Homo sapiens: one gene and its partners. The protein of the gene in region 1 purifies or fractionates together with the protein of each later gene. This does not show direct contact. Each region holds a gene or a part of one and is shown in the gene's direction. Other genes may lie near its edges.

Region 1 (10,941 bases):
AGTCAGTGCTCAGAAGTCCGTATCCTGGACCCAGGACCTCAGCACCCGCTCCCTAAGGCCAACCATATAGTCCCCTGTTTGGGGGCTCCCCTGAGCAGTCGCGGGCGATCCCAGAGAAGGCAAGTTTCGGGATCTGACAGCCCCAGTCACGACCCTGGGTGCTGCGCAAGCCTCCATGTGAAGAGCGCGGAAACCGCCCCAGGCCTAGCTGCTGCAAACCACCGCTTCCAAACTTCCCGCCGGTCTCTAGGCTCCGGGTGCCCACCGCCCCTTCCTTCCTTCCTTTGCGCAATCAACAAGCTCCAACTCCAGATGGGATTTCGCAGGCCCTGCCCTGTGTATAAACTCTCTTCGTCCTGGGGTTGTCAACAAAATTTTTTTTTGGAGACGGAGTCTCGCTGTCGCCCAGGCTGGAGTGCAGTGGCGCGATCTCCGCTCACTCACTGCAACCTCTGATTCCCTGGTTCAAACAATTCTCCCGCCTTAGCCTCCTGAGTAGCTGGGATTACAGGCAAGCGCCACCACGCCCGGCAACAAACTCTTCTAATTGGCCGGACTCGCAGGCCCCGCCCCCACAGAGTGTGCCACTGCGTGGAGCGCGCCGCTCCTCATAGGGCGCTTGCGCAGGCTCCGCTCCCTGAGCGGCCGCTTTCCTGGTCTCCAGGCAACGCGTACGGCGCTGTCCACTGTGCTGAAGCCGCACACCAAGCGCCGCCTCTAGCTGCAGGCTCACGGCGCCCCCAGCTCTCCTAAGTGGGCGGTGCCAACACCCTAAAGCAGGGACCACTAAGCCTCCTTTGCGCCCTATCCCCAGTTTATCTCTTGGTAATAGGTAGAGCCCACTTCCCTCCACGTTGGCTGAGAAAGCCCTACCGTCCCATCCAGCTCAGAGGAAAGCCCAAGGCTTCCCGCGATTTCATGCCGTCACCTCCACACCCTCATCCGCTCACCTCCAGCCACACTGACCTCCGCGCTCACAACAGACAATCCAGACACATTCCCACCTCCAGGCCTTTGCTCTTAACTGTTCACGAGGCCTGGAGTGCTCTCTCCGATTCCGCATGACTCCTCCATCCTCCTTTCAGGCTCAAATCCCACCGTCTCAGTGAGCCCAGCCCTGACTATCCTGTCCTACTGAACACATTGACCTCTCTCTATATGTATGTATGTATATAATTTTATTTTTAGTTTTTTCGAGACAGGATCTTGCTCTGTTGCCCAGGCTGGAGTGCAGTGGTGCGATCATAGCTCACTGCAGCTTCCACCTCCCGGGCTCAAGCTATCCTCCTGCCTCAGCCTCCCGAGTAGCTGGGACTACAGGTGTGCAGCACTGCGCCCGTATAATTTTTGTATTTTTAGTACAGCAGAGGTTTTCGCCGTGTTGCCCAGGCTGGTCTCCAACTCCTGGGCTCAAGCGATCTACCTGCCTCAGCCTCCCAAGGTGCTGGAATTACAGGCGTGAGCCACTGCATCCGGACTAGAATATATTTGTTTAAGTGGGTGGATTAAGCCTCTTTTGATAATTGTTGAAGCTGGGTCATTGGTTACAAGGTGATAACTATGCAATTCTCTGTCCGTTTGTCTATGCTTGAAAAGTGTGTAATGAAGAATGTCAGGTGGCACAGTGATCTCCAGGAGGGGCAGAGAACCAGCATCAGGGGCTACACAGCTAGTGGTGGTACCCCAACGCCAACCCCACACATAGCCCAATCTCACAATGACTAAGTACAGAGACTGTAGTTGATGCTACAAGGATTACTGTGGCTGGAGACCAGATGTGCAACCACCTATAAACTTCCTGAGTGTAGCTTCAGTTTTGACATAAACTGTTCTTATTTTCATGAATCTCTGTGACATGGATGTAGCTGCCTCCAACTCCTGTCCCTAGTGTTTTCGAGCCCAAGGGCCTGTTTCTCCTTATCATTGGCTTTTTTCTTTTTCTTTTTCTTTTTTTTTTTTTTTTTGAGACGGAGTTTCACTCTTCTTGCCCAGGCTGGAGTGCAATGGCACGATCTCGGATCACCACAACCTCCATCTCCCAGGTTCAACCAATTCTCCTTCCTCAGCCTCCTTAGTATCTGGGATTATAGGTATATGCCACCATGCCCGGCTAATTTTGTATTTTTAGTAGAGATGGGGTTTCTCCATGTTGGCCAGGCTGGTCTCAAACTCCCGACCTCAGGTGATCCGCCCGCCTCAGCCTCCCAAAGTGCTGGGATTACAAGTGTGAGCCACTGTGCCCGGCCACCACCACTGGCTTTTGATCCAAATTGTGAATGGCAGAACCTGAGCCTTGTGCAGCCTGGCTGCAGGGCAGGCTGGGAAAGTAACTGTCAATTATAACTTCTATGGAAAGGCAGGCTTAGCCTTAAAAAATATGACATTCTCTCAATGCAGGGGTGTATGAGCGGGGTCAGGTGTTAGGTGGCCAAGAAAAGAAGGGGCTATACTAGCTTCAGAACAGCAAATCCAGGCAACCCTTAATCCAATCAGCCATTCATCCAATCATGGTGATTGCATTCTAAAATGCAGAGGATTCCCTCCAACATCCCAGAAGCTTTGGATAACCAAGAATTGCAGGCAGGTCAGAGCTCCAAGATAAGGTCACCCAGAAAAGAAAGAGACTCACTTTGGATAAGATAATGAAATGCTGTTTTTGGAACCTAAACCACTGAGAGGCAACATTGGCTGCACACAGAAATTCCTTGAGGCTTAAAACAAAAAACAAAAGAAAATTGATGACTGAGTCTCATCCCCATAGATTTTTTTTTTTAAGAGATGATCGGCCAGGTGCAGTGGATCACACCTGTAACCCCAGCACTTTGGGAGACTGAGGCAGGTGGATCACCTGAGGTCAGGAGTTCGAGACCAACCTGGCCAACATTGCAAAACCCTGTCTCTACTAAAAATACAAAAAATTAGCTGGGCATGGTGGTGGGCGCCTGTAATCCCAGCTACTTTAGGAGGCTGAGGCAGGAGAATTTCTTGAACCCGGGAGGTGGAGGTTGCAGTGAGCCGAGATCGCACCATTGCACCCTAGCCTGGGCGACTCTAATTTCTGGCCTCAAGCAATCCTCCTACTTCATCGTCCCAAAGTACATAAGCTACTCACCATAGATTTTAGTTTAAGTTGTCTGGGCATAGAGATAGTTAAAAACTCCACAGGTAATTCTATGTGCAGCCAAGAGTGAAAAACAGTGGTTCTGAAACGAGTGGGCATCAGAATAACACAGAAAGCTTGGCAAGAAGCAGACTTAAACACATATTGGCCAGGCGCTGTGGCAATCCTCCTGCTTCAGTCTCCCAAGTAACTGGAATTATGGGTAATTTTTTAACTTTTTTTTTTTTTTTTTTTTTGCCATGTTGCCCAGGCTGGTCTCTAACTCGTGGGCTCATATGATCCACCCACCTTGGCCTCCCAAAGTGCTGGAATTACAGGCGTGAGCCACTGCGCCTGGTAAACATTTTGAAAAATAGAAATATTAGCTGGGCACGGTGGCTCACACCTGTATCCTAGCACTTTGGGAGGCCTAGATGGGTGGATCGCTTGAGGTCAGGAGTTTGAGACCAGCCTGGCCATCATGGTGAAACCTTATCTCTACTAAAAACAAAAATTAGCCGGACGCGGTGGCTCACACCTGTAATCCCAGCACTTTGGGAGGCCAAGGTGGGAGGATCACCTGAGGTCAGGAGTTCGAGACCAGACTGGCCAATATGGAGAAACCCTGTCGCTACTAAAAATACAAAAAAATTAGCCAGGCGTGGTGGCGTATGCCTGTAATCCCAGCTACTCAGGAGGCTGAGGCAGGAGAATCACTTGAACCCAGGAGGTGGAGGTTGTAGTGAGCCAAGATTGCACTATTGCACTCTCCAGCCTGGGCAACAAGAGCAAAACTCCGTCTCAAAAAAAAAAAAAACAAAAAACGGCCGAGTGCGGTGGCTCACGCCTGTAATCCCAGCACTTTGGGAGGCCAAGGCAGGTGGATCACCAGGTCAGGAGATCAAGACCATCCTGGCTAACATGGTGAACACCGGTCTCTACTAAAAATACAAAAAATTAGCTGGGCGTGGTGGCAGGCGCCTGTAGTCCCAGCTACTCAGGAGGCTGAGGCAGGAAAATGGCGTGGACCTGGCAGGCAGAGCTTTCAGTGAGCAGAGATTGTGCCACTGCACTCCAGCCTGGGAAGCAGAGCAAGACTCCATCTCAAAAATAAAAAAAAAATTAGCCGGGTGTGGCAGCAGGCACCTGTAATCCCGGTTGCTTGGGAGGCTGACGTAGGAGAATCGCTTGAACCTGAGAGGCGGAGGTTGCAGTGAGCTGAGACTGTGCCACTACACTCCAGCCTGGGCAACAGAGTGAGATTCTGTCTCAAAAAAAAAAAAGAAGAAAAGAAAAGAAAGAAAAGAAATAGAAAAGAAAGGATGAGTGTTGTAGACAAAGGCAGGTGCAAAGGCCCTGAGGTTGGCTTGCTGGTGGGCAGGGGTGTTTTCCAGGCGGGTTTTCCGGGTGTGGCCTTACTAAGGATGCCCCACCATCTGGGCAACCGGCATCCTTAGCCTTTCTTACAGGATAGGGGGCTTGAGGCTCCCTTAGACACCCTCTTGGCCAGAGTAGCTCAGTTTAAGACAATTGAAAGGACATCTTCTGGGACAATAGCGCTCTCTGCTGGCCAGGACAGATATCAGATCCAGTTGTAATGATAACAATTACTATATAATATTGTATATTATTATTATCTTTTTTTTTAGGGTTTCGGTCTCACTCTGTTGCCCAGCCTGGTGTACAGTAGCCCAATCATAGCTCACTGCAGCCTCCAACTCTTCAGCTCAAGTGATCCTCCTGCCTCAGCTTCTTGAGTAGCTGAGACTACAGGGGCGTGCCACCACACCATGTTAATGTTTTTGTTTTGATTTTGTTTTTGTTTTTGTTTTTTAGATGAAGTCTCGCTTTGTCGCCCAGGCTGGAGTGCAGTGGCGCAATCGTGGCTCGACCTCCGCCTCCCGGGTTCAAGCGATTCTCCTGCCTCAGCCTCCCGAATAGCTGGGACTACAGGCACGCACCCCCACGCCCGGCTAATTTTTGTATTTTTTTAGTAGAGACGGGGTTTCACCATACTGGCCAGGCTGGTCTTGAACTCCTGACATCGTGATCCGCCCGCCTTGGCCTCCCAAAGTGCTGGGATTACAGGCGTGAGCCACCGTGCCTGGCTCACAACCTGTTAATTTTTTAATTTTTAAAACTTTTTTTTCTTTTTGACACAGAGTTTTGCTCCTGTTACCCAGGCTGGGGTGCAATGGCACGATCTCGGCTCACTGCAAACTCCGCCTCCCAGGTTCAAGCAATTATCCTGCCTCAGCCTTCGGAGTAGCTGGGATTACAGGCATGCACCACCATGCCTGGCTAATTTTGTATTTTTAGTAGAGACGGGGTTTCTCCACATTGGTCAGGCTGGTCTCGAACTCCCAACATCAGGTCATCCGCCCGCCTCAGCCTCTCAAAGCGCTGGGATTACAGGCGTGAGCCACCGCACCCAGCCACACCAGCTTAATTTTTTTTTTTTTTTTTTTTTTGAGATGGAGTCTCGCTCTGTCACCCAGGCTGGAGTGCAGTGGCACGATCTCGGCTCACTGCAAGCTCTGCCTCCCAGGTTCACGCCATTCTCCTGCCTCGGCCTCCGGAGTAGCTGGGACTACAGGTGCCTGCCACTGCGCCCGGCTAATTTTTTGTATTTTTAGTAGAGACGGGGTTTCACTGTGTTAGCCAGGATGGTCTCCATCCCATGACCTCGTGATCCTCCCTCCTCGGCCTCCCAAAGTGCTGGGATTACAGGCGTGAGCCACCACCCCCGGCCCTTTATTCAATCTTTACAAAGTCTTTATGCCGAGATGCTGTAATTCGCCACATTTTATCCAAGAGAAAATTATGGCTAAGAGAGTCTCTGATTGTAGCTCGAAAGTGCTAGGGATGGGATTCGTTCCCAGTTCAATTCTGATTCTTCGCTTTAGCGTGTTGTGGGTAGGAGTTAAATGGGCCCCCAGCCAGGACCAGGGGTTCAAATCCGTTGCCATGGTCCCCCGACGCTTTCCCGGGCTCCAGAACGGATCGCGTGGTCACGTGACAGCGGCCAACATGGCGCCGCCCACTGTGTGGTACGGCCCACGTGGTTCCGACAGTCAAGATGGCGGGAGCAGCTACCCAGGCTTCCCTGGAGTCGGCCCCACGGATCATGCGGCTGGTGGCCGAATGCAGCCGCTCCAGGGCCCGGGCAGGCGAGCTGTGGCTGCCGCATGGGACAGTGGCCACTCCTGTGTTCATGCCAGTGGGCACGCAGGCCACCATGAAGGGCATCACGACCGAACAGCTGGACGCTCTGGGTTGCCGCATCTGCCTGGGCAATACCTACCATCTGGGTCTAAGGCCGGTGGGTGGGCTCTGCCCGCGCGGGGAGGCGGCGAGGCGGCGAGGCGTGGGGAGCCATGGAGCGTCCTCCAGGCCCGGACACTCCTCCCAAAGTCAATCGACCAGCTGTATTGAGCGCCCCCAATGACCAGGCCTTGTACTGGGCGTGAAAGAGCAGCAGGGACTAAAGCTGGCCAGATCTGTCTCCCAAGAAGGGCCCCCAGGGACGCGGTCACCCCTAACCTGACACTTTCTTCCATCAACCCAGGGACCCGAGCTGATCCAGAAAGCCAACGGTCTCCACGGCTTCATGAATTGGCCTCATAATCTGCTAACGGTGAGCTGAGGAGAGAGCCGACGTTCTAGGGCCCTTCTCTGGAGTGAAGGGTCCCCATCTCCACCCCCTGACAGCTTTGCGGTGGGGTTTCCCTTAGGACAGCGGCGGTTTCCAGATGGTGTCGCTGGTGTCTCTGTCCGAGGTGACGGAGGAGGGCGTCCGCTTCCGCTCCCCCTACGACGGCAATGAGACCCTGCTGAGCCCGGAGAAATCCGTGCAGATCCAGAATGCGCTGGGTGAGAGGACCCTGGGGAGCCGCCTCCTTACCCTGTCTGTCAGGGGGTGAAGTTTACACGGGGCCTGTTTTTTAGCTGTTGTGTGGCTTTGAGCAGGTCACTCCTCGCTGAGCTTCAGTTGAACCAACTCAAAGCGGGGGTAAATAGTAGCAGGTCTTTGGTAGAATTGTTGACAAGTACATATGAGATGATGTCAGTAAATCTCCATCCCAGCCATGTAGTAGCTTAAGTATTATTATTGCAGTTTTTCTCTCATTAGCAAATTAAGACTGGACGTGGAAGCTCATGCCTGTAATCCCAGCAATTTGGGAAACTGAGGCGGGAAGATCACTTGAGGCCGGGAGTTGGAGACCAGCTTGGGCAATACAGGGAGACCCTGTCTCTACCAAAATAAAAAATAAAAAATAAAAAAAACAAATTAATTGGACAAATATCTGTTGAAATAATGGTGGCAACAAGAGGATTGGGGAGGCTTTAGGCTTCTCCCATATCCTCAATATCCTTCTTTTTTTTTTTTTTTTTTTTTTTTTTTGAGACAGAATTTTGCTCTTGTTGCCCAGGCTGGAGTGCAATTTTGCGATCTGAGCTCACTGCAACCTCTGCCTCCCGGGTTCAAGTGATTCTCCTGACTCAGCCTCCCGAGTAGCTGGGATTACAGGTGTGCGCCACCACACCTGGCTAATTTTGTATTTTTAGTAGAGACAGGGTTTCTCCATGTTGGTTAGGCTACTCTCAAACTCCTGAGCTCAGGTGATCCGCCTGCCTCGGCCTCCCAGAGTGCTGGGATTCCAGGCGTGAGCCACCACACCTGGCTTTTTTTTTTTTTTTTTTTTTTTGAGACAGAGTCGCCCAGGCTGGAGTGCAATGGTGTGATATCCAGTCACTGCAACCTCCACCTCCTGGGTTCAAGTGATTCTCCTGCCTCAGCCTGCTGAGTAGCTGGGATTACAACTGCTTGCCACCATGCCCAGCTAATTTTTGTATTTTTTGTAGAGACGGGTTTCACTATGTTGGCAAGGCTGGTCTCAAACTCCGGACCTCAGGTGATCCACCTGCTTCGGCCTCGCAGAGTGCTGGGATTATAGGTGTGAGCCACCACGCCTGGCCCAATATCCCCATTTCTTGATAAAGAACCATGGCAACACAGGGTCAAAACCCCTCTTCCCCTCATCATTCTAATAGATTGATGCTGTAGGGAGGAAGAAATATTTTTTCTTCTTAGATTCATGGCTGAAGCCCCTATAACAAAAACCCTTATAAGAAAAGAAGCCACGTGCTGGGTGCGGTGGCCACGCCTGTAATCCCAGCACTTTGGGAGGCGGAGGCGCGATCATGACTCACTGCAACAGCTGCCTCCTGGTTCAAGCAATTCGCCTGCCTTAGCCTCCCAAGTAGCTGGGATTACAGGTGCCCGCTACCACACCCAGCTAATTTTTGTATTTTCAGTAGAGATGGGGTTTCACCATGTTGGCCAGGCTGGTTACGAACTCCTGACCTCAAGTGATCTGCCCATCTTGGTCCCCCAAAGTGCTGGGATTACAGGTATGAGCCACTGTGCCCGGCCTATAAGTTTATTTTTTTATGTTTATTTATTTTTATGTATTATTTTGAGACAGAGTCTCACTCTGTCACCCAGGCTAGAGTACAGTGGCACAATCTCAGGTCACTGCAACCTCTGCCTCCTGGCCTCAAGCAATTCTCCTGCCTCAGCCTCCCAAGTAGCTGGGATTACAGGTGCATGCCACCACGCCCAGCTAGTTTTTTGTATTTTTAGTAGAGACAGGGTTTCGCCATGTTGGCCAGGCTGGTCTTGAACTCCTGACCTCAAGCGATCTGCCCGCCTTGGCCTCCCAAAGTGCTGGGATTACAGGTGTGAGCCACCATGCCCGGCCAAATATTTTTTGTAGAGATTAGAGTCTCACTACATTATCTGGGCTGGTCTTGAACTCCTGGCTACAAACAGTCCTTTGCCTTGACCATTCAAAGTGCTCATGTTACAAGCATGAGCCACTGTGCCAGCCCCCATGTGTTTTTTGTTTGTTTGTTTGTTTTTTCTGGAGATGGAGTCTTGCTTAGTCTCCCAGGCTGGAGTGCGGTGGCGCGATCTCGGCTCACTGCAAGCTCCGCCTCCTGGGTTCATGCCATTCTCCTGCCTCAGCCTCCGGAGTAGCTGGGACTACAGGCACCCGCCATTACGCCCAGCTAATTTTTTTGTACTTTTACTAGAGACGGGGTTTCATCGTGTTAGCCAGGATGGTCTCGATCTCCTGACCTCGTGATTCGCCCATCTCGGCCTTCCAAAGTGCTGGGATTACAGGCGTGAGCCACCGCACCCGGCCTCTTTTTTTTTGAAACCGAGTTTCGCTCTTGTTGCCCAGGCTGGAGTGCAATGGCGCAATCTCGGCTCACAGCAACCTCTGCCTCCTGGGTTCAAGCGATTCTCCTGCCTCAGCCTCCCGAGTAGCTGGGATGACAGGCATGCGCCACCATGCCCGGCTAATTTTGTATTTTTGGTAGAGACGGGGTTTCTCCATGTTGGTCAGGCTGGTCTTGAACTCCCGACCTCAGGTGATCCGCCTGCCTCAGCCTCCCAAAGTGCTGGCATTACAGGTGTGAGCCACCATGCCCAGCTAAAGTTCTAGCTTTTTAATGAATGTCGTAATTTTTTTTTTTTTTTTTGATGTGGAATCTCGCTCTGTCACCTAGGCTGGAGTGCAGTGGCTCGATCTTGGCTCACTGCAACCTCTGCTGCCCGGGTTTAAGCTATTCTCCTGCCTCAGCCTCCCCAGCAGCTGGGACTACAGGTGCCTGCCACCACGCCTGGTAATTTTTGTACTTTTAGTAGAGACGGGGTTTCACCTTGTTGGTCAGGCTGGTCTTGAACTCCTGACTTCAGGTGGTCCACCTGCCTCAGCCTCCCAAAGGGCTGGGATTACAGGCGTGAGCCACCGCACCCAGCCCCATATTTATTTTTTCGTCTTTTCTTTTTTTTTTTCTTTTTTGAGAAGGAGTCTCACTCTTTGACCAAGGCTGGAGTGCAGTGGCACTGTGTTGGCTTACTGCAACCTCTGTCTTCTGGGTTCAAGCACTTCTCCTGCTGCAGCCTCCCGAGTAGCTGGGATTACAGGTGCCCATCACCACACCTGGCTAGTTTTTATATTTTTAGTAGAGACGGGGTTTCACCATGTTGGCCAGGCCGGTCTCGAACTCCTGACCTAAGGTGATCCACCCGTCTCGGCCTCCCAAAGTGCTGGGACTACAGGCGTGAGTCACCACGCCTGCCCCTTTTTTTCTTTTTTGAGACACAATCTCGCTCTGTCACCCGGGCTGGAGTACTGTGGTGCAATCTCGGCTCACTGCAACCTTTGCTTCCTGGGTTCAAGCGATTCTCCTGCCTCAGCCTCCCAAGTAGCTGGGACTTCAGGTGCATGCCACCATGCCGGGCTAATTTTTGTATTTGTTGTAGAGACAGGGTTTCACCATATTGGCCAGGGTGGTCTTGAACTCCCGATCTCAAGTGATTGACCTGCTTTGGCCTCCCAAAGTGCTGGGGTTACAGGCGCAAGCCACCAGGCCTGGCCTGTTCTTTTTTTTTTTTTTTTTTTTTTTTTTTTTTGTGGAGACAGAGTCTCGCTCTGTCACTCAGGCTGGAGTGTAGTGGTGCGATCTCGGCTCACTGCAAGCTTCACCTCCCGGGTGCACACCATTCTCCTGCCTCAGTTCCCGAGTAGCTGGGACTACAGGTGACCGCCACCACGCCCGGCTAATTTTTTGTATTTTTAGCAGAGACAGGGTTTCACTGTGTTCGCCAGGATGGTGTCAATCTCCTGACCTGGTGATCCACACGCCTTGGCCTCCCAAAGTGCTGGGATTACAGGCGTGAGCCACTGCGCCCGGCTGTGGCCTGTTCTTTTTTATTTTAAATTGTTTTCATCTATTTATTTTCTTAATAATGGAGATGGGGTCTC
Region 2 (10,727 bases), on another chromosome or scaffold:
AAATAAATAATTGGGAGGCCATTAGGCTGAGATGGCTCCACTGTCTCGGGTTTCTATACGGCCAAACTGAAACCTAACTCAGTGTGAACAGCCATATTGCAGGAAAACAAAGCTTAAGCTTAACCAGTCAGAAACTGTTGAGCTGGAATTTTTTCCTTGACCTTGTGGGAGGGAACTGGAGTAGCACATTTCATTCAGCCTGCCACTGGCCACTCCTCATGAGAGGGAGCATGTGAGCAAGAAGAGTGCAGGAACCAAAGTGAACTAATGCTGGAACTGGCCGGTTGCTCCTCTCTGGCGGGAGCCGGCTCTGTGCAGGGCCCTGTAGGAGTGTCCCAGCCCTTGTCCTCTTGGCATTTGGGTTCTTGTCCAGTGTCTAGGAAGAATCGTCACACGAATGAATTGAAGGTTGGCGTATGCAGAGGATTTTATTGTGTGATGGAAGTGGAAGTGGCTGTCAGCAGAATGGGGAGTTGGAAAGGGGATGGTGCGAGAAGAAGATCTTTGCCTGAAGCTGCACTGTCTGAAGTTAGCCACATCTGTCTGTAGTCTTAGATGCTCAGTTGCTTCTCTGCTCAGCCATTTGTATCCCTGATGCTCAGCTGCTTGTATCCTCAATGCCCAGCTTCTTGTGTCCCTGACGCTCAGCTGCTTGTATCTCTGACGCTCAGCTGCTTGTATTGCTCTGCCAGTTAAAGTTTTTTTATGGGCACAGGATAGGGGTGTGGCAGGCCAAAAAGGCAACATTCAGGTAGAAAAATGGGTCAGCTGTTTTCACTTAGGGCTGTAGTTCCAGGCTTAATGGTGGGGTTTAACTGAGAGCCCAGCCATTCTGTTATCACTGCCAACTCACCTCTAACTAGGAACTTTATGGCTACTGCTCTACTTTAACCAATCAAATATTTTCTTTGTCTTGTTCCTCAAATACTTTATAAAGCATCTCCCCTCCCCCTGCCTCAGTGGAGCCCAGACCCAGCTGTGGTTTGGCACTACCCGATTCATGAATCACTATCTGCTCAAATCAACTCTTTAAAATTTTAATGTGCCTAGGTTTATCTTTTAACAATACACACGTGTACATACAACACATATATGATTTTTTTTTAAAAAAATTCAGAAATGAAGTGATACTGGTTCCTCCACTAACTTATCTCCTGGATAGGACACTTACTCCAGTATGGTAGATGGCAAGCTGTCTTTAATCTTTAGCTTATTAGATAAAATACTTCACAAGTTAAAAGAAAACTTTAGACAAGTTAAATTTTACAGAGTTTAACTGAGCAAAAAATGATTCTCGAATCAGGCAGCCCCCAGAACCAGAATAGATTCAGTGTGATTTTAGGCCTGCCGCATGGTAGGATAACAAGGAAAATGATGTCCAGAAAATGGAAGTGAGGTACAGAAATAGCTGGAACGGTTACAGCTTGATGTTTGCCTTATTTGAACCTGGTTTGAACCTGGTTTGAGCAGCTGGCTGCCTGTAATTGGCTGAAACTTGGCTATTTCTTACAAGAGTAAGTGACCGTTTTCACATCAAGTTACCTTGCATTTCTCTACATATGAAGAAACCTTTAGGCCAAACTTAAACTATGTAAAGAGACAGCTTTAGGCCAAACTTCACTTAACACACATCATGTTTTTTTTGCATTAATTTTCATCACGTAGCCTTTTAAAGATATTTTTAGCCTTCATTCTATTTGGACTGGAATGCGAACCGTGTGTGCGTGTGTGGCTTTTTGAGCTTTTCAACCTTCGTCTTCCTGTTTCTTCTGCCTTTTTTCCACTGAAACTCAAAAACTGTGAAACGTGATTTCCCTTTCTAACACACCTTAGTGCTGTTCAATACTTATAGTCAGGAAGTCCTGTCTGGTCTCCATAAACTCTTGGTTAGTCATAGTCAAACCAGGGAGAGAAGGACTGCACCAAGTGGTGAGACATTCAAGTGATGAGGAAAAGAAAAGAAAAGAAAAAAAAAAGAACACGAAGGGGAACAAAAAAGGAGAAAAGGAGGAAAGGCAGGGAACATATGAATGAGACAAAATTGGGAAGAAAAGGGGGTTGAAATGAGAATCCTCTGAAAGCCAAGTTGACTCAGCCCTTTCAAGAACTCTTAACTCCTCCTGCCCGTTAAAGGTGTGTGAACCAGAGCAACTCCATCTTGAATAGGAGCTGGGCAAAATGAGGCTGAGACCTACTGGGCTGCATTCCAAGATGGTTAGGGCATTCTAAGTCAGCGGATGAGATAGGAGGTTGGCACGAAATACAGGTCATAAAGACCTTGCTGATAAAACAGTTTGCAGTAAAGAAGCCAGCTAAAACTTACCACCAAAACCAAGATGGCCAGGAGAGTGACCTCTGGTCGTCCTCACTGCTACACTCCCACAAGCACCATGACAGTTTACAAATGCCAGGGCAACATCAGGAAGTTATCCTATATGGTCTTAAAAGGGGAGACATGAATAATCCACCCCTTGTTTAGCAGATAATCAAGAAATAACCACAAAAATGGGCAACCAGCAGCCCTCAGGGCTGCCCAGCCAATGGAGCAACCATTCTTTTATTCCTTTACTTTCCTAATAAACTTGCTTTCACTTTACTTTATGGACTTGCCCTGAATTCTTTCTTGTGTGAGATTCAAGAACTCTCGCTTGGGGTCTGGATCAGAACCCCTTTCCTGTAACATTTTTCTGGTGACCACGAAAGGACTCTAGCAAGGAAACCCCTGACCCAAAGGCTAACTTTGGGTAAGTGGTGGGGTCCAGTAACACCCCCACCATTGTCAACTGTCTTATGTTAATTCAGAATTTAGGTCAATTTAGTACTTAGCTACTTTGCGATTGCTGGAGTATAGCTCTTGTGAGGTGTTCTTGTGCACTGTGACACAAGAATCTGGTCATGCTTTTATGAATTTTGTGTGGAGCTTTCCATGAGTGAGAGTGTCCATAAATGTAATCTGAAAAGAACCCAGGACTGAGGCCCTAATGGCTGCTCTGGTTCAATTTTCAGCAACTCATATCCTCTTCTGCAGATTTTAATTCTGGGCCAAGACTCTTATTCTGCTATAGTGGAGTGTCTCTGTGCTAATTCAGGGTTGGGGCTCATTACATGATACCCCAAAGTATGGTACTTTGGAATGCTGAGTACTTTGAACTGAAGAAAATTGGAAAGGCCTCAGAAGCAAGGTCTTTCTGAACTTCTCCTGTCCTGTTTTCCACTGTAAGCAGTAGAAGTTATTACAGTTACTGGCAGCAAATTGCAGCAACCTCGATTCTTGTCTCCTCAGAAGATGTCGACTGAGGGGCATAAGGCAAAAGAAGAGACTGAGGCAAGTTTTAAAGCAGGAGTGAAAATTTCTTAAAAAGCTTTAGAGCAAGAACGAAAGGAAGGAAAGTACACTGAGAAGAGGCCCAAGTGGGTGACTTGAAGGACAAGTGCAAGGTTTGACCTTTTGACTTGGGTTTTTATGTGTTGGCATACTTCTGGGGTCTTGCATCCCTTCTACCCTGATTCTTCCCTTGGGGTGGGTTGTCGAAATGCACAGTAGCCTGCTAGCGCTGGGGAGGGGAGCAAGTGCAGTGTATTTATTGAAGTTGTAAGCATGCTCACCTGAGGCGTTCTTCCCTTTTTCAGTAGAATGCCCCCAGAAGGTCATATATCAGTTAAATTCCACCATTTTGCCTCTTAGTGTGCATGCGTGAGCCCGCTCGCCCAACTCCTGAGATCTCATCAGGAAGCTCCTGATCATCAGTTTCAGGGTTTTTCTATCTATAGGGAAACTGCCTTTCCCTGGCGCTGGCTATGAGCAATTATTATTTTAGAGAGGCGGTGTGACCACTGTCTGACCATCACCTGATGATCTTCTGACATTCCTGGTGGAGCGTGGGGGCCCTATCCTGCCCTGTTCGTGTCTGACTAGCTACCCACTGTAACATCACCACTCTTCGCAGTGAGTCATGGAAACCAGAATTCCTCTTTCCCAACGCAGGTCATAGAAACTAGAATTCTCCTTCCTCCAAGCAAGTCGTAAAACCTAGAAAGGTTATTTTCTGCCTTCTCCCTTGAAGACCCTCATTCCAGAAGGGTCCTGCCCTAATACCAGAAGGAATGCTACACAGGGAGGCCAAGAAGAATATGAACAGACAGGCCTTGCTGGGTTTCCCCATTCAGTCTATTACCATTAGACTATTATCATTCCCTTTTTGTCCAATCCCATTTCTTTTTCTTTTTAAGACACAGGGTCTCTCTCTGTCGCCCAGGCTGGAGTGCAGTGGTGCAATCATTGCTCACTGTAACCTTGAACTCCTGGGCTCAAGCAACTCTCCCACCTCAGCCTCCCAAGTAGCTAGGACTATAGGATCACAATACCCAGCTAATTTGTGTGTGTGTGTGTGTGTGTGTGTGTGTGTGTGTGTGTGTGTGTAGAAATGGGGTCTCCATCTGTTGCCCAGGCTGGTCTCAAACTCCTGGGCTCAGGCGGTCCTCCTGCCTTGGCTTCCCAAAGTGTTGGGATTACAAGTGTGACCCACCGTACCAGGCCTCTAATCACATTTCTACACAGCGATCCCTTCTTCATATAACCTAAGCATAAAAATAGTTTCCTCTAGGTCTCATGGTCTGCATTTTTGGACTCTCATGTCATGTAAAACTTTGATTAGACTTGTTAGGCTTTTTGTGTGTGTTATAGGAGTGTCAGCTGTGACCCTTAAAATGGGTAAAGAAAGGTTTCACACCTTTCCACTCCTACACCAGTCAGAGTTTACTACATAATTTTGGAACTGAGTGATTTCAGATGTGTTTAATTCAGCTTCATCTTGGCTTCACCACATTCTGCCCTGTGTATGCGACTCAGTAACCACTCTGCACCTCAATTTTTTCAAATAAGGTTTGAAAAAGAAGGTTATAATATTTACCTCAATAGGGTATTGTGAAAATTACAGAAGTTATGATTTACATAAATCTAAAACACTTTGAATCATGCACATAGTAAATGTTTAAAGGTGTTCACTATTATTATGATTGACTTAGATTAAACCTATTTTAAATATTAACTGTTCCTCTACGCTATCAGACCTCCAAGTGTGGTGTGGGGATTCATGGGGGTGGGAATTTTCTGGAGACCCTTTTCAGGAGTCCATGAGGCCAAAATTATTTTCTTAATACTACTATGAGGTTGCCTTTTTCATTCACATTCTCTCAAGATGTAGTAGTTTTTTAAGAGCTACCTGAGAAGTGCTAACGTTAGCAACAGAAGCAGCTAGAGAATCCAGTTCTCACATGAAATCAGACATTAGAGACTTTTCTTACTAGATTTAAAAAAAATTACTTGTCATAAAAATGTTGTTTGTTAGCTGGTAACGCATTAGTAATTTTAAATCAATATTTTAAAACTTTAATTCTAATATAGTAAGTATTGATATAACTGACAGAAACAAAAGCTCCCTGGGCTCTTTAACAATCTTTAAGACCGTAAAGGGATCTTGAGGTCAAATTTGAGAACCAAAGCTGTGATGCAACCTCTTTTTGAACAAACGTGGATGCCTCACCACCACAATTTCATCTTTTCTAGCCTCCATGACTTTTTCTTGTTTCCTCTGGCTGGGCTGAATTTCTTCATTTCTGCCTGCCAAAAGCCCTACCCCTCCTTCAAGAGCATCTATAACTGGTTATCCTTGAATTTGGTCCAGATTTCGCTGCCTCCTTGGCACCCTCTTCCACGATGCTGGGCCCTCCAGGGCCGGGCCTCCCTCGGACACGTGCCCTCGTTAGCCTTGGAATATGCACACTCTGTTTTGACGGAGACTCTCTTGCGAGCCTGGTCTAGATTTCTCCCCTCACCAGCCAGGCACAGGCACCAATGGGAGGTGCCTGGGCTCCACAGGCCCGTCGGGGCCAGAGGGTCGCCGGTAGCGTCAACCAAGTGCACGACAGCCCACGGGTGGCTAGGCGCGTGGGAAGAGCCGGAGCCCGACCCCCGCCCACCCGGTTTCCTGGCAGCGCACTGCCGCGTAGGGGCGGAGCCGCGCGCCTACACAGGGTGTGGCCTCCAGCCCGCGCGGGAAAGGGCCTGCGCCGCATGCGCGCGCACAGTCGGCGGCCGCGCGCAGCACGCTCAAGGCCGGGATGGCGGCGGCGGCGGCGGCAGGAAGCGGGACGCCCCGAGAGGAGGAGGGACCTGCTGGGGAGGCAGCGGCCTCGCAGCCCCAGGCCCCAACGAGTGTGCCTGGGGCTCGTCTCTCGAGGTTGCCTCTGGCGCGAGTGAAGGCCTTGGTGAAGGCAGATCCCGACGTGACGCTAGCGGGACAGGAAGCCATCTTCATTCTGGCACGAGCCGCGGTGCGCCTGCAGCGCGAGGGCATGCGGGAGTGGGGGAGGTGGAGTGTGGGGCGGGGCCTCGGGGCCTCCCGCGGGCGGGGCTTAGGGCGGCGTGGCCCGGGTTTTGAGATGTGGGCGTGGACCCGGAAGGCGGAGGAAAGGGGCCGGGGACCTGTGCGAGTTTTGTTAACACTCCTCCCTCTTGTTGAGGACCTGGATAGTGAGTGACTTTAATTTGTATCTCCAGGGCCTCGTACAGAACTTGTAGGAGTCTTTAGTGAATGAGGGAGAATACTGGGAAGAGGGTAGCGGAATGGATCTTCATGAAGTCCAGGACAATCTTAGCTTCCAGAACATTTTCTTGCCCCGAGCCTTTCTTCTCCCTTTCTGCCCCCACCCACAAACCGGAGCCCTCACCTCCTCAGTGTGTTAGAACCCATTACTAAAACTTTGCTTTTTTACTTCACAGGAACTGTTTGTGGAGACCATTGCAAAAGATGCCTACTGTTGCGCTCAGCAGGGAAAAAGGAAAACCCTTCAGAGGAGAGACTTGGGTAGAGTGGCACTGCAGTGTCTGGGGACAGACAAGGGAGGGCTGGGCTGGTTTCCCCTTGTGCAGGTTGAGAAGACGTCACTCTGATCTGAGAGGTGCCACAGCGTCTCTCCCCAGGATGGTTTCTGTTGGCCACAGTGCCAGGAAGCCCTACCTGTAGAGGCTGTCTGCTTGGGGTGGCGGGGCAGTGTGTGAAGGTGTCTGGGGTTGCCGTAGCGGACTGGATCCCTTCATACCTTCTGCCAAATTGCACCAGAAAAAGATATTTCTTTTTCACCTAGCAACTGGGGATTTGATTTCTGACTCTTGTCTGGCTGGGAACCCTCACCTGGGTAAGATTTCGTATACCGTATTCTCATGCGCCCTGCGTCTATTGCCACGTTCTTCTCTGACAACTTTAAGAGCAAAGCGAATAAATAATTTAGGGGTAATTTAGGAGGCCCCCAACCCCCGCGTTGAATGGTATTTGCCTATGCTTTTCTTAACTCTTCTAGGGAGACAGCTAATATATATAAGAGTTGCTGGTAGAGTAGATATGGATCTCAAGGCAGCAAGGGACGCATCTTATAAATGCCCTCATTTGCCCAAAGCCTCATGCCCTTCACTGCAGATTGTGCTGTTTTCTGACTGAGGTCAGCATGGCTGAAGTTAGTCAGGTGTCTCTTTTCCTTGTGTTTCAGATAATGCAATAGAAGCTGTGGATGAATTTGCTTTTCTGGAAGGTGAGTTCCCTCTCAGTGGGCAATCATTTCCGCCTGTCTTTTGCATGTTGATGTGAAATTCAAAATCTCATAAAACGGATGCCTGCTTCTTGTTTGTGTAGGGATAATTCTCCGCACTTGCTATTAGGATAGAAAAAAGTAACTTGCTAAACCTAGTGAGGTTCAGTTTTCTCCCTTGGGGAATTAAAATTTCTACCTGAAAATTGCTAACCATAAAGAAATAGGAGGGAATATAAAGATCCCAGTGGAGTTAGATGAATTCGAAAGTTCGATTCCTACTTTGATCGCCATCCCTAAATGTCAGGCTTGCCCCCCCTCATCATGTTACAGATCAGAAACAATTGTTAACATTTAAAGGGTCACCGCTTGTTCTTTTTTCTTCAACAATCTGTGTGAAGTGATTATTTTGCTGCAATAAGACTTGTACTTGTCTGTATTTTTAGGAGTCATGGATTAACTTGTGTACTAACTAAATTTTGTCATTAAAAAAGAAAATATTTGAAATACCTAATTTTAGCTACCTAGCCTCAGAGCGATTTCTGCTACTTAATTCTTCAGTCTGATCAGCTTACTCTTCACTACACGTATGTAGTCATGTGCTGCGTAATAACTTTTTGGTCAGCCATGGACTGCTCACATGAGGGTGGTCCCATCAGATTATAATGGAGCTGAAAAATTCCTTTTGCCCAGTGAGGTAGTGGTCATAACATCCTAATGAAATACATTACCTTTTCTATGTTTAGATTTGTTTAAATACACTTATCCTCATGTTACAGTTGCCTACAGTATTCAGTACAGTAACATGCTGTTCAGGTTTGTAACCTGACAACAATAGGTATACCCTGTAGACTAAGTGTGTAGTAGGCTATACCATCTAGCTTTGTGTAAGTACCCTCTATGGTGTTCACACAGTGGTGAAATCGCCTGAAGATGTGATGCATTTCTCAGGATGTATCCTTGTTGTTGAGCGACACATGTATTTTGATTGAATAGCTTAGCAAAAGCCATGTATCCTTATTCTCCCAGGGTGTTCTCATTACCTCCTTCAAGCCTTATTACCTTTAGAAATATCTTGATTTATTCCACTCTTTTTTACTCCTTTGTTCTGCATCTCCCTGTCAACCTAGGCCCCTGGTCCTTTTGATAGATATTTTTTAAATGTCTTATTAGATAGATAGACTACCATGGCCAACTCTATGTCTAGACTATTGAGCATTCTTTTAATTTGCAGATTTTTCTTCAGCCTCTCTTTCCACCTACTCATTTTTCTTAAAATTAACTTTTGTTAGTCCTACCTAAGGCAGGCACTCCTTGTGACAGACTTTCTGTAAGTTCTGCAGTCAAAAATGTTTGGAGCCTACTTTACCTCTTCATTTTTAATTACCAGCTTTTCAAAGACATGAGTGATATGATCAGATTTGTATTTTAAGTGCACAACATTGCTGCCCTGGGGAAAATAAACTGGAGGGTACTAGGAATAGAAGTGGGGTGGTCTTATGTAGTTTTCCACTCTAGCCTCTATCACAGCATAGTGCTTAGCTTGGATTTTTAATAAATGGCCATTTATTGAATGATTGGTGTGTTTATTTTCATCCTCTGCCTTCATCCTCATTTATCTCTGTAATTGAATCCCTTTGCTCTGTCCTACATTGGTAGATCTGAATGTTAGCCATCATAGCCCCTGTGGATTCAGTCTGCATTATATTATTTTTTACTGGGTAAAATAAATGTTCTTATGTCCTTAGGTGTGTATGGTCTAAGTAAATACATTTTTTTCGTTTTTATAATACATATCCATACTTGAAAATCAAATCGTTACCTAATGGCTTATAATGAAGTACAGCTGCCGTCCACCCACTGTTTTGTTTGTGTTTTGAGCTTTTCTGGTGGTTACGTTTATTTCTAACTAATATGCTTACCCATTGGTTTGTCAGCTGTAGACGGTATGTATTGACTTCCTGCTGTGATAAATGAAGATTTGGCTAACCTGTAGAACCCCATAAATCCCCTGCTGTCTTTCTGATTTTTGGTAGTTGTATCACTAGTTTTAGTTTCTTTACCTTTACAGTTTATATAACATACTAGGATGTCTTTGGTTGTTGTGTCCAATTTTTAATGTATTCCTTGACTCCCCAGTTTGTAAAGTATGACTATTAGTGCATGTATCCCTTTTCCCTTTCTAGTTCACATCTAGCTATCAATTTGTGTTATCTAGTAATTTGACATTGTCAAAGCTAATAACATTTGTATCTTATCACAATTAAATCTTCCATGCTTTATCTCTGGTTGATTGTAGAAGTTGAAAACTAGGACTGTAAACAGTCTTTCTCTACCTTCTCTCTGTCCCTTAATTCCTCATTCAGGTCCCCTCCCTGCAAACAACTGTTACTAGTTTTCTTCTGTAATCTGGATATTTTATGCAAATATGTTTGTATGTGTATATGTATATTCTTTTTCTAAGTCATATGAAATACAACGTATGTAAAGTGTGTGCTGTAAATGTAAAGTCAATAAATGATAAAATGAACACTCTCGTAACCACCATCTTGGCCAAGAGATAGGGTATTGTCAGCCCCCAGAGTCCCACGTATATTCATTCTTCATCATACCTATTCTCATCCCCTTTCCCGACATTACTGTTTCCTAACTTTTTTGGTAATTACTTCCTTTTCTTTATAGCTTACTATATAAGCATGCATCCCTGAACACTAAGGTTTAGTTTTGTTTTGTTGAACTCTCTGCAAATGGAACCAAACCGTATGCATTCGTTGGCCAACATCTGTCACACAACTGTTTTAAGTTAACACATTTATGAGATTCATCTGTGTGATTGCACATAACTCATTTGTTCGTGTTCCTTGCTATATGACAGTACCACAATTGAACTATTTTAATGTTGATATTTGGGAAACCTTATTTCTCCTATTATAAACAATTTGCTGTGAACAATCTTGTACATATTTCTCTAGGGTGGATGTATATGTGTGTATAAAATATATAATACTGCTGGGACCTAGGCTATATAGAGTATTCGTATCTCCATCTTTGGCAGGTACTGCTGAACTTCCTGTATTCCAATTCACGTTCCTACCAGCAGTGCATGATAATTCCCATTGCTTCTCATTCTTACCCACACTTGG
Region 3 (10,514 bases), on another chromosome or scaffold:
AGTTCTTGTCATGTCACACCAAAACCACAGAGGGCCTAGGGATGGAGCCTGGGAGCTTAAGCCCCCATATCTGTCTTCAGAATCCTAGCTCTTAACTAATCCTGTTAGTTTAACATGATCGTTATTAGGCAAATAACTTCCTCAGTCTTGTTTATTTTAAAATATTTCCTGCTATTATGCTGGTTTAGAAATAAGCCAGCCTAATCTATGTGTGTATTTCAGAATTATGGGAAACAGTTCTGAACTGGTCATGTAATGAGATTTTTCTCTAAATTCAAAGAAAGCAATATTATTGCAATATCAAGCAACTTAGCTTCCTAGCTGAATTTTGCAATTATACCAATATTTTGGTTATTGGTGGTTCTAGTTTAGAAATATTCTATCATTCTGAACAGTATTAATTCTAAAACTTTCATATGAGAGTTCCAAAGAAAAGTTTCTATCCTAACCATTAATTCAGTTAGTATAGCAGCTCTTTTATTAAGAAGAACAAGAAATATAGGAAACAAAGCAGCTATTAGCAGATGAGCAAAGAGAGCCTATACAAGGTGGATCCAGGCAACAAAACAGTGCAAAGCTCTGCTGTCAACTCTGGGCAGAAGCGTTTTGTGTTGCCTTTGTTCTGAGTCAAGAAGTGATACCCGGCCTCTAGGGAAAACCTAGGGAAGGGCATCTCTCAATGATGCCATGACATGAAAACACCTGGAAACCTGTTTCCCAAAGTCCAAATATAGGTGTGAATTTCTTGAACACCTAATCTCAAATGACATCAAGCATGATTCAGCATACGTAATGGTATCATGAATACATAATGAAGAAGCAATGAATTATTGACAGATGAAACAGAACTGCCACCAAATGAAACGTAGAACACAAATGCCTTATGCGTATTTTACACAGCGCATGTATTTTATATGGAATGTGGGGTCAGCAGATTTATTTTCTAAATTCCCTCAAGAAGTTAAAGTCTGAGTGGGTGCTCCCTTTTTAGCTATCTGTGACTTCCCCATGCTTATTCCTTTTTTTTTTTTTGAGATGGAGTCTCGCTTTGTTGCCCAGGGTGGAGTACAGTGGCGCAATCTCGGCTCACTGCAACTTCTGCCTCCTAGGTTCAAGTGATTCTCTTACCTCAGCCTCCTGAGTAGCTTTGATTACAGGTGCCCGCCACTATGCCCAGCTAATTTTTCCATTTTTAGTAGAGATGGGGTTTCACCATGTTGACCAGGCCGATCTCAAACTCCTGACCTCAGGTGATCTGCCTACCTCGGCCTCCCAAAGTGCTGGGATTATAAGTGTGAGCCACTGCGCCTGGCCCCCCCCATGCTTATTTCTTTGATGCTTAGTCATGTGCTAAAACTGGGTTTTCTATCAGAGCAACAATACCCTTAAAATATATATGGTGGCCCTAAATCTATGGGGATAAACTCGATTTAAATATATACAAAGTTTTTGTTTTGTTTTTGTTTTCGTTTTTTAAGAGATGGGGTCTCACTCTATTGCCTAAGTTGAGGGGCAGTGGTGCGATCATAGCTCACTACAGCCTCGAACTCCTGGGCTCAGGCAGTCCCCTCACCTTAGTCTCCCAAATAGCTGGAACTACCAAGCCTGGCTTAAATACGAGTTTTTAAAATAAAGCATATAGCATATTCTGTACAGTTCAGGTACAGGAAAAAAGGTTACTGCCACCTGTGAAACAAATGTGAAAGGCTCTGTCTGCACATCTATGAATCCTCCCAAAAGGCATCCTTATTGTACACCTTCAACAAAGATTACAAAATATATTTTATAATATATCTTTACAGATATTGACAATAGTGGGTATGTCAGTGACTATGAACTTCAAGACCTGTTTAAGGAAGCAAGCCTTCCTCTGCCTGGCTACAAGGTGCGCGAGATTGTGGAGAAAATTCTATCAGTTGCTGACAGCAACAAAGATGGCAAAATCAGTTTTGAAGAGTTTGTGTCAGTAAGTAATCTAATCCTTTCGGGCTACTGATAATCTTGCTTAGAGCAGAATTGTAGTAATGTCATCACTAGCTTTGGTTAAATCCAGCTTCAGAGACCAGAAAAAGGACTGCTTTAAAATGATGATGATGATGATGACAATAACTATTATTATCGAAATAATTTCCACAACTAATTCATAAAACAAAGGAAAAAATTATTCTCAAATTGTTGGAATGGAAATCAGGTTTAGATAATAGTAATTCATTCCCTAGAATAACTAGGTGAGTTCAATGCTTATTGACCATTAATATAATTGAATAAATATTTATGAAATATAAATTGTCTGGTTTTGCATTCTTTATTGATTAAGCAGGTATTTTAGCTCTTCTCTTCCTAGAAATTTTGCTAGGCACTGTGAGTAATGTGATGAGTAAAAAGAAACGTGATTCCTGTCTTCATGGAGTTTATATGTGTGGAGAAGACTGCATTGCACAAATTGATAAAAGATAATTGGAGAATTGCTATGACAGAGTGGTACAGGTCCTGTGAGAGTTTGTGGTAGAAGGAATTGAATTTGGAGGCAAGGCTGGATAACCCAGGGACTCAGGGAAGGTATCCCTACAGTGTGAAGACTGTGATGTGTTCTGAAGAAAGATGTTAAACAGATAAAAGTGGGTTGTGGGAAAATGAATAATGTAGGAGGCAGGTAGACATGACAGCATGTGTAGAGTCCCTGTGGCTTTAGAGATGGTGAATATTCTCAAGCAACTGAAAGAAGGTTTGTGTGACTGGAGCTGAGATGGTAAGGGTAAGGAATGTAGCTGGAGAAGTAACTCAGAATCAGGTCACACAGGGCCATGTCGAATTTTTGTTTTTATCCTAAAAGCAATAGGAAGACAATGAAGTGGGAAGAATAGAATGTGAAGTGACAAGATCAGATTTGCATTTAAAAAAAAACCCAATCACTTTGCTGCAAGCAGAACTGATTGAATTGAGTCTTGCCAATCTCTGGTGAGTCCAGTGAGAGAGTGATTGGGAAAGGGAGTTTCTGTAAGCCTATGTTATTTCCTCTAAGAGCTGACTTATTTTATCATGAATGCATTTGAGATGTTCAGGCAGGAAAATATCTTCATTAAGGCATTCTTCTATCTTTAGCATGTAGTTAGTTATTTCTTAGGTTTTCAGTACAAAAGATTATGGCAAGCCAAGAAGAATAATTTCAGTGTGTTCAATTTAAGCTTAGTTATAAAAAATTTATTCCACCGTTTGGGGTTCAAGTATTTGTCTATTTTGTGTTATTGGTAAAATGATGAAAGTTATCTGTGTATACAAGCAATAAGTACAACTGACTAGTATTTAATTTGGTGTCATTTCAAATAAAGAAGTGTAAATAAATATCCATTTTGTCAGGTTTTTATTGATTATCTGATTCTCAATTTTACTTATGTTCCATTCCAGCTAATGCAAGAATTAAAAAGCAAAGATATCAGCAAAACATTCCGAAAAATAATTAACAAGAGGGAAGGGATTACTGCTATTGGAGGAACTTCAACTATTTCCAGTGAGGGCACACAGCATTCTTATTCAGGTAACTGACTTCTCCAAATTTGATCTTTTAGTCACTGATTCATTGATTAAGTGACATATTTAATCAGTTCTAAGATGCCACTCATTGTGATTCATACCGTTATTTTATGTGCCACTGAGGAGAAAAAAATACTGCAGACCACAGTATAACATGCCATTGAATTTGAAATACATCTCAGTTTCACAGATGTCAAAATGAAAAATCCTAGAATCATTGAAATCAATGAGTTCCTGCTGTGTATCAGGCTCAGTCTACAGAAACAAGATTATAAACAACAAAGTGGAAGTTGTTTATACTCCAGCATTAGATGTATTTAAAAGTGGCTTTTCAATGGCTTTTCATCCTGACTGATGAGGTGGCTTTACTTTTAGACCTGAGCTAGGAATGGGGGAGAGGCTTCTATCACAAGGATTTTTCTCTTCCATTTTCTGAGATCTGAGATACCCGATTCACCTTTTATCTAGTAACCAAGTGACTAGAGAGCATAGCACCTGATTTGCTTGATCTGATTAAACCACTGGACCATTGCCCAGTGGGAAATGCAGAAGCATATCAACTTTTAAGATGAGGTGTCTTCCCCGTGTTAAGTTATCTAAGATGTCTAAGAACCTTTGGCCAAGTTCTTTTTATTTATATGAACATAACTAGAACTATGCTTTTTGGCCTTTTGACAAAATTACCTGTAACCTTTTCCCCTCTTTCTTCATTTCAGATCTGAATCTGTTAATTATCCTCTTGATTCTGTCCCTTCCTAATTGGATTTTCCTCTAGCGATACACTCAAATTTCTCTCATCTATTATATGTTTTTCCTAACTTTTTCCCACTAGGGAAGCAGCCATAAAGGCAAAGGTCCATAACTGTTACCTTCACTTTTTGAAAGGTATTCACCCCTTAACCCAGTTTCTGCCTGTCAATTCTACTGAAGTGGCTTCTTTTTAAAGACAAAAAAAAATTATTAAGGTATAATACACATTCAGCAAAGTGCTATAATCTTAAGTATATGGCTCAATGAATTTTTCCATGTGTATATACATTCATGTAGCTGCCAACCAGAACAAGACATGGAATCTTTTCATCACCTGAAGACTCCCTCATTCCCCTGATAGTAACTATTCTTCCCTAGAGGTAACCTCTTTTCTGATATTTGTCACCATAAATTTTTGTTTACTTATTTTTTGAGGTATAAGATACTTGTAGTAAAGTGCATGAAGTGTACTTTTTTTTTTTTTTTTTTTTTGAGATGGCGTCTCGCTCTGTCGTCCAGGCTGGAGTGCAGTGGTGCGATCTCGGCTCACTGCAAGCTCCACTTCCCAGGTTCACGTCATTCTCTTGCCTCAGCCTCCTGAGTAGCTGGGACTACAGGTGCCCGCCAACACGCCCAGCTAATGTTTTTGTATTTTTAGTAGAGTCAGGGTTTCACCGTGTTAGCCAGGATGGTCTCGATCTCCTGACCTCATGATCCACCCGCCTTGGCCTCCCAAAGTGCTGGGATTACAGGCATGAGCCACCACACCAGGCTGAAGTGTACTATTCTTAAGTATATGGCTTGATGATTTCTTTTAACCTATGAATACACCTATATAACTATTCTCTAGAAAAATATATGGAATATTTAATGGCTTTTATAAAAAATAGCAGCTTTATTGAGATATAATTGACATACCATGGAATACATTTTTAAAGTATACAGTTCAGTAGTTTTTAGTGTATTCATAGTTGTGCAATTGTCATCACTATTTAATTTCAGAACACTTTCATTACACCAAAGAAGAACACTATATTCATTATCAGTCACTCCCCATTTCCCTCTTCCCGAAGGCTCTGCAACCATTAAACTGCTTTCTATTTCTACAAATTTGCCTATTCTGGAAGTTTCATATAAATGGTATCATACTGTAGTGGCCTTTCATTTGACAGGCTTCTTCACTGGTGTAATATTTTCAAGGCTTATCCATGTTGTCACATATATCATACTTCATTCCTTTTTTTCTGACTGCAGCCTCGACCTCCAGAGTTCAAGGGATCCTCCCACCTCAGCCTCCCAAGTGCATAACCATGCCTCCCAAATGTGTACCACCATGCCCAGCTAATTTTTCTATCTTTTGTAGAGATGGGGTTTTGCTATGTCACCCAGGTTGATCTTGAACTCCTGGGTTCGAGCGATCTGCCTGCCTTGGGATTACAGGTGTGAGCCATGGTACCTGGCCCCTTCATTCCTTTTTATTGCTGAATATTCCATTCTATGGGCAATACCACATTTTGTTTATCCTTTCATCAGGTGATGGACATTTGGGTTGTTTCTAGTGTTTGGCTATTATAAATAATGCTATATGAACACTCATGAATGCATTTGTGTGTGGACATATACTTTGAATTCTCGTAGGCATATACTTAGGAGTAGAATTGCTTGAATTTTTGTTAACTCTATGTTTATCATTTTTAAAGAACTGCCAAATTGTTTTCCAAAGTGGCTGCACTTGTGAGGGCGATCTGGCTGCGACATCTGTCACCCCATTGATTGCCAGGGTTGATTTGGCTGATCTGGCTGGCTAGGCAGGTGTCCCCTTCCTCCCTCAGTGCTCCATGTGAGTCCTTCCCGAAGCTGCGTGCTCGGTTGAAGAGGACAACCATCCCAATAGAAGAGGACTGGTCTTTGGTCAAGGGTATACGAGTAGCTGCACTCCCCTGCTAGAACTTCCAAACAAGCTCTCAAGGTCCAAAGTGGCTGCACCATCTTACATTCCCACCAGCAATGTATGAGGGCTCCAGTTTCTTCAATTCTCACCAACACTTGTTTTTGTCCATTTAAAAAATTACAGCCATCCTAGTGGTTGTGATGTGGTATCTCATTCCTGGTTCCTATACCTGAAACATCCTTTCTTTCCTTGCCTATATTCACCTATTGAAAAACTATATTTCAAATAGTACCTCCTCTATGAAGCCTTTTCTTGATCACCCTAACTAAAAGTGATTGCTTCTTTTTTTAAATTCTGCAAACATTGCATATATATTTCTGGTGGTGTGTGTATTTCCCTTATATCACATTTCTTTGTATATTTGTTTTACAATTACACTAAAAAATTCCTCAATGGCAGATACAGTATTTTAGTGATCTCTGAATTCCTAGACTCCAAATCCTTCTAAGGAGGTGTGTATGAGGAGGCGAGAAGATAAGGCAGATTATGATATGTACAAAGAGGAAATATTAGTACATATTTGTGTTTTTGTTGACTTGTGTGTGTATGTATGTGTGGTGGATTAAATTTTGGGGGTACCTGCAAAATATTCCCTTGGGAAAATTACTTAATTCTAGGAACTGGGGCAACAATGGAGAAGGCCAAATCATTATGTGCTACCCTCTGATGGAAATGGGGATTATTTACTTTAAGGATTTATAATCTTAAATGGTTTTTATATCTACAGAATAATAATAAAGTTGTACAATGTTTTTACTTTAAGTTCCTTCCTATTTTCCCCACTGCATAACCCAACAAAATTTTCTACTTAAGATCAATGTACCCATACTAGAAGCCATGTGTTGAGAAGTTGTTGGATGAAGATGGCCAAAGATAGTGCTGGTATCTAGATTTGTGTCAATTTTTTCTTCGTTTTTTGTTTTTTTGAGACAAGAGTCTTGCTCTGTTGCCCAGGCTGGAGTGCAGTGGCGTGATCTCGGCTCACTGCAACCTCCGTCTCCCAGATTCAAGCAATTCTCCCTGCCTCAGCCTCCAGAGTAGCTGGGATTACAGGTGCCTGCCACCACACCTGGCTAATTTTTGTATTTTTTAGTAGAGATGGGGTTTTGCCATGTTGGCCAGGCTGGTCTCAAACTCCTGACCTCAGGTGATCTGCCCACCTCAGCCTCCCAAAGTGCAGGGATTACAGGCATGAGCCACCGCACCCAGCCAATTTGTGTCAATTTTTTAATAGTTAAATTCCATTGAAATTGAGCTGTTTTATTCATTTGAATAACTCTTGACTGAATTCAGTATTTCTGTTGTAAGCTAAAAATCACAGCTCTCTAAACCTTTTGGGGAGGATGGGATTTATTGCCATGGTATTTGTTTCTTGTATTTTTTTCCTTATTTAATTAACATATACATATTTGACCTCCGATGGTCTGCTTCTGACTCATTAGCTTTCAGAAGCAATACATATTTGGAAATATTTTTGAATCAAACCAAATATATATTGTGCTCATTTAAGATATATACCTTCATCTCTCCTAATAGATCAGTTTTTTGTTTGTTTTTTTGTTTGTTTTTTGTTTTTGTTTTTGAGACAGAGCCTTGCTCTGTCACCAGGCTGGAGTGCAGTGGCGCGATCTCGGTTCACTGCAAGCTCTGCCTCCTGGGTTCATGTCATTCTCCTGCCTCAGCCTCCCAAGTAGCTGGGATTACAGGCCCACGCCACCATGCCCAGCTAATTTATTTTTGTTTATTTAGTAGAGATGAGGTTTTAACATGTTGGCCAGGATGGTCTTGCTCTCTTGACCTCGTGATCTGCCCGTCTCAGCCTCCCAAAGTGCTGGGATTACAGGCGTGAGCCACCGTGCTCCCCGTTTTTTTTTTTGAAAGGGTCTCTCTTTGTGGCTTAGGCTAAAGTGCAGTGGCAGGATCTCCACTCACTGCAACCTCCACCCCCCGGTTCAAGCAATCCTGAAGCCTCAGCCTCTCGAGTAGCTGGGACTATGGGCATGTGCCATTATGCCTGGCTAATTTTTGTATTTTCAATAGAGACGGGGGTTTCTCCATGTTGCTCAGGCTGGTCTTGAACTCCTGACCTCAAGTGATCAGCCCGCCTTGGAAGTGCTTTGGGAAGTGCTGGGATTACAGGCGTGAGCCACCACACCCAGCCACCTTTCTTCTTTTCTTGAACCCTTTTGTGTTTTAGTAGATTTGTAATAATGGTCAATTATTATCTTTGAGCAGAAATTAACAAGTATGTTTTTGTAGTGCAATAGCTATGTATGTTTTTATAGTGCAATAAAGTTTGTGAAATGAGATTTGCCTACCAAGGTTTTCTCCTTTCAGAGGAAGAAAAAGTGGCTTTTGTTAACTGGATAAACAAAGCCCTGGAGAATGACCCTGACTGTAAGCATCTTATACCCATGAATCCCAATGATGATAGTCTTTTCAAGTCACTTGCAGATGGCATCCTTCTTTGGTGAGTTGAACTTCTGGTTAAGGAAGCTGCGTTCTTGCTGATTACATTGATGAGCATTCCATGAAAACTCCAATTCAGCTGTCCATTGTCTTTTGGAGTCAGTAGCTACTTAGGTCATGAGGAATTTATATTGCATAGAAAATGAACTACTGTATATCTATTGGAAAATTTCCAAAATTTTCCTTCAAATACAATCCCTTGTTTTTCTGTTGCCTTTTACGTGTATTACTATAATAATTGCCAGGAATCTTTTGAGTTATTTGTCTGATGCAGTTTTAAATATTCGCAGGGTTTCTCTTTTCTTTTTCCAGTAAGCGAGTATTGATTATTGACTGGAATGGGACATGAGGAAATGTAAAGGGAAGATATTCCTTATTTGTACCTAAATGAAAATAATGTTTTGATTCAGCCTTGTGTTATCCTTGGCTCTTTGCATTCTATTTTTTCTCACTATGTTGTAAACTCTCTGAGGGAATGTCTTTGTCATTGTTGTGTGTACCACAGTCCCAGCATACTTCTTTGGACAAAGCAGAGGTCTTTTCTTTAGTTTATAAAAAGTACAAAAGATTTACAAAGTAGAAAATAACCATCAAAAATATCCTTACCACCCATAAATGACTTATTAATATTCTAACACATTTCCTTCAGTCTTTTTTTTTATGTTTTTACTTAAAAAGGAAAACAAAACCTTACCCATAAGTACAGGATATTAGATTTTATGACATTAAATATAAAATATACCTTGACCTCCACCTACAATTCTTATCTTTCTTTGACTCTCAGAGAAATTCCTATTATGAACCAAATGGGTATTTTCCTATTCTTGTTTTAAAAGGTAAAATTCTAAAATATAGAGACAAAATTTATATTAATTTCTCTGAAAATGTCTAAATTATTGGTCTTAGATGAAATCTCTGGCTTCGTATCTTTCTGCAACAACAGTAATTTTAACAGTGTTGATACTACTTTATGAAACTTGGCTTCTTGGAGAATTTCTTTGTTTTAGGCTGCGGAATACTGATGATCATTAAGTGAAATAAAGACAAAACTAACATAAAGAAAATTCAGGGTGATGACTGGGCGTGGTGGCTCATGCCTGTAATCTCAGCACTTTGAGAGGCTGAGGCAGGAGGATCACTTGAGGTCAGGAGTTTGAGACCAGCCGGGCCAACATGGTGAAACCCCATCTCTACTAAAAATACAAAAATTAGCTGAGAGGTGGCACACACCTGTAATCCCAGCTACTCGGGAGGCTGAGGCAGGAGTATCACTTGAACCCAGGAGGTGGAGGTTGCAGTGAGCTGAGATCACACCACTGCATTCCAGCCTGGGTGACAGAGGTAGACTCCCTCTTAAAAAAAAAAGAAAATTCAGGATGGTTAAAAAAAATTAGGAGAAATGCTTAGATTACTATTGCAGTGAGTGATGGATTTGTTTTAGGAATGGGAATATTTCTTGGATTTTAAGAATTAAGTTCCGGCATGAATTATAGTTTAATTAATTATTATTATTATTTTTTGAGATGAGGTCTCTCTGTTTTACACAGGCTGGCCTCAAACTCTTGGGCTCAGCCTCCCAAGTAGCTGAGATTATATGCATGTGCCACCATGCCTGGCTTACTGTTTAATATTTTAAAGTAATGAATTGTTATTTTCAAAATTTATCTATTTTGGCTGTTTGCAATAATAAACTAAAAAAATTTCTTGGAGTATTAAACTAAATTATTCTCATTTTCTCTTTAGCAAAATGATCAACTTATCTGAACCAGATACAATTGATGAAAGAGCCATCAATAAGAAAAAGCTCACGCCA

The links.
Region 2: the proteins of QTRT1 (region 1) and POLE4 purify together in Homo sapiens (affinity purification with mass spectrometry; 2 studies listed by BioGRID and IntAct, with this or other methods). This does not show direct contact.
Region 3: the proteins of QTRT1 (region 1) and PLS1 purify together in Homo sapiens (affinity purification with mass spectrometry; 3 studies listed by BioGRID and IntAct, with this or other methods). This does not show direct contact.

Annotation. Positions count from the first base shown.
Region 1 is NC_000019.10:10,695,282-10,706,222, forward strand, and holds the start of QTRT1 (queuine tRNA-ribosyltransferase catalytic subunit 1), read left to right. Parts: upstream 1-6,157; 5' UTR 6,158-6,179; coding exon 6,180-6,422; intron 6,423-6,668; coding exon 6,669-6,737; intron 6,738-6,834; coding exon 6,835-6,973; intron 6,974-10,941.
Region 2 is NC_000002.12:74,952,560-74,963,286, forward strand, and holds the start of POLE4 (DNA polymerase epsilon subunit 4), read left to right. Parts: upstream 1-6,083; 5' UTR 6,084-6,120; coding exon 6,121-6,333; intron 6,334-6,781; coding exon 6,782-6,866; intron 6,867-7,545; coding exon 7,546-7,587; intron 7,588-10,727. UniProt on the Homo sapiens protein: Accessory component of the DNA polymerase epsilon complex. Participates in DNA repair and in chromosomal DNA replication.
Region 3 is NC_000003.12:142,667,588-142,678,101, forward strand, and holds part of PLS1 (plastin-1), read left to right. Parts: intron 1-1,802; coding exon 1,803-1,966; intron 1,967-3,405; coding exon 3,406-3,535; intron 3,536-8,569; coding exon 8,570-8,702; intron 8,703-10,444; coding exon 10,445-10,514. UniProt on the Homo sapiens protein: Actin-bundling protein. In the inner ear, it is required for stereocilia formation. Mediates liquid packing of actin filaments that is necessary for stereocilia to grow to their proper dimensions.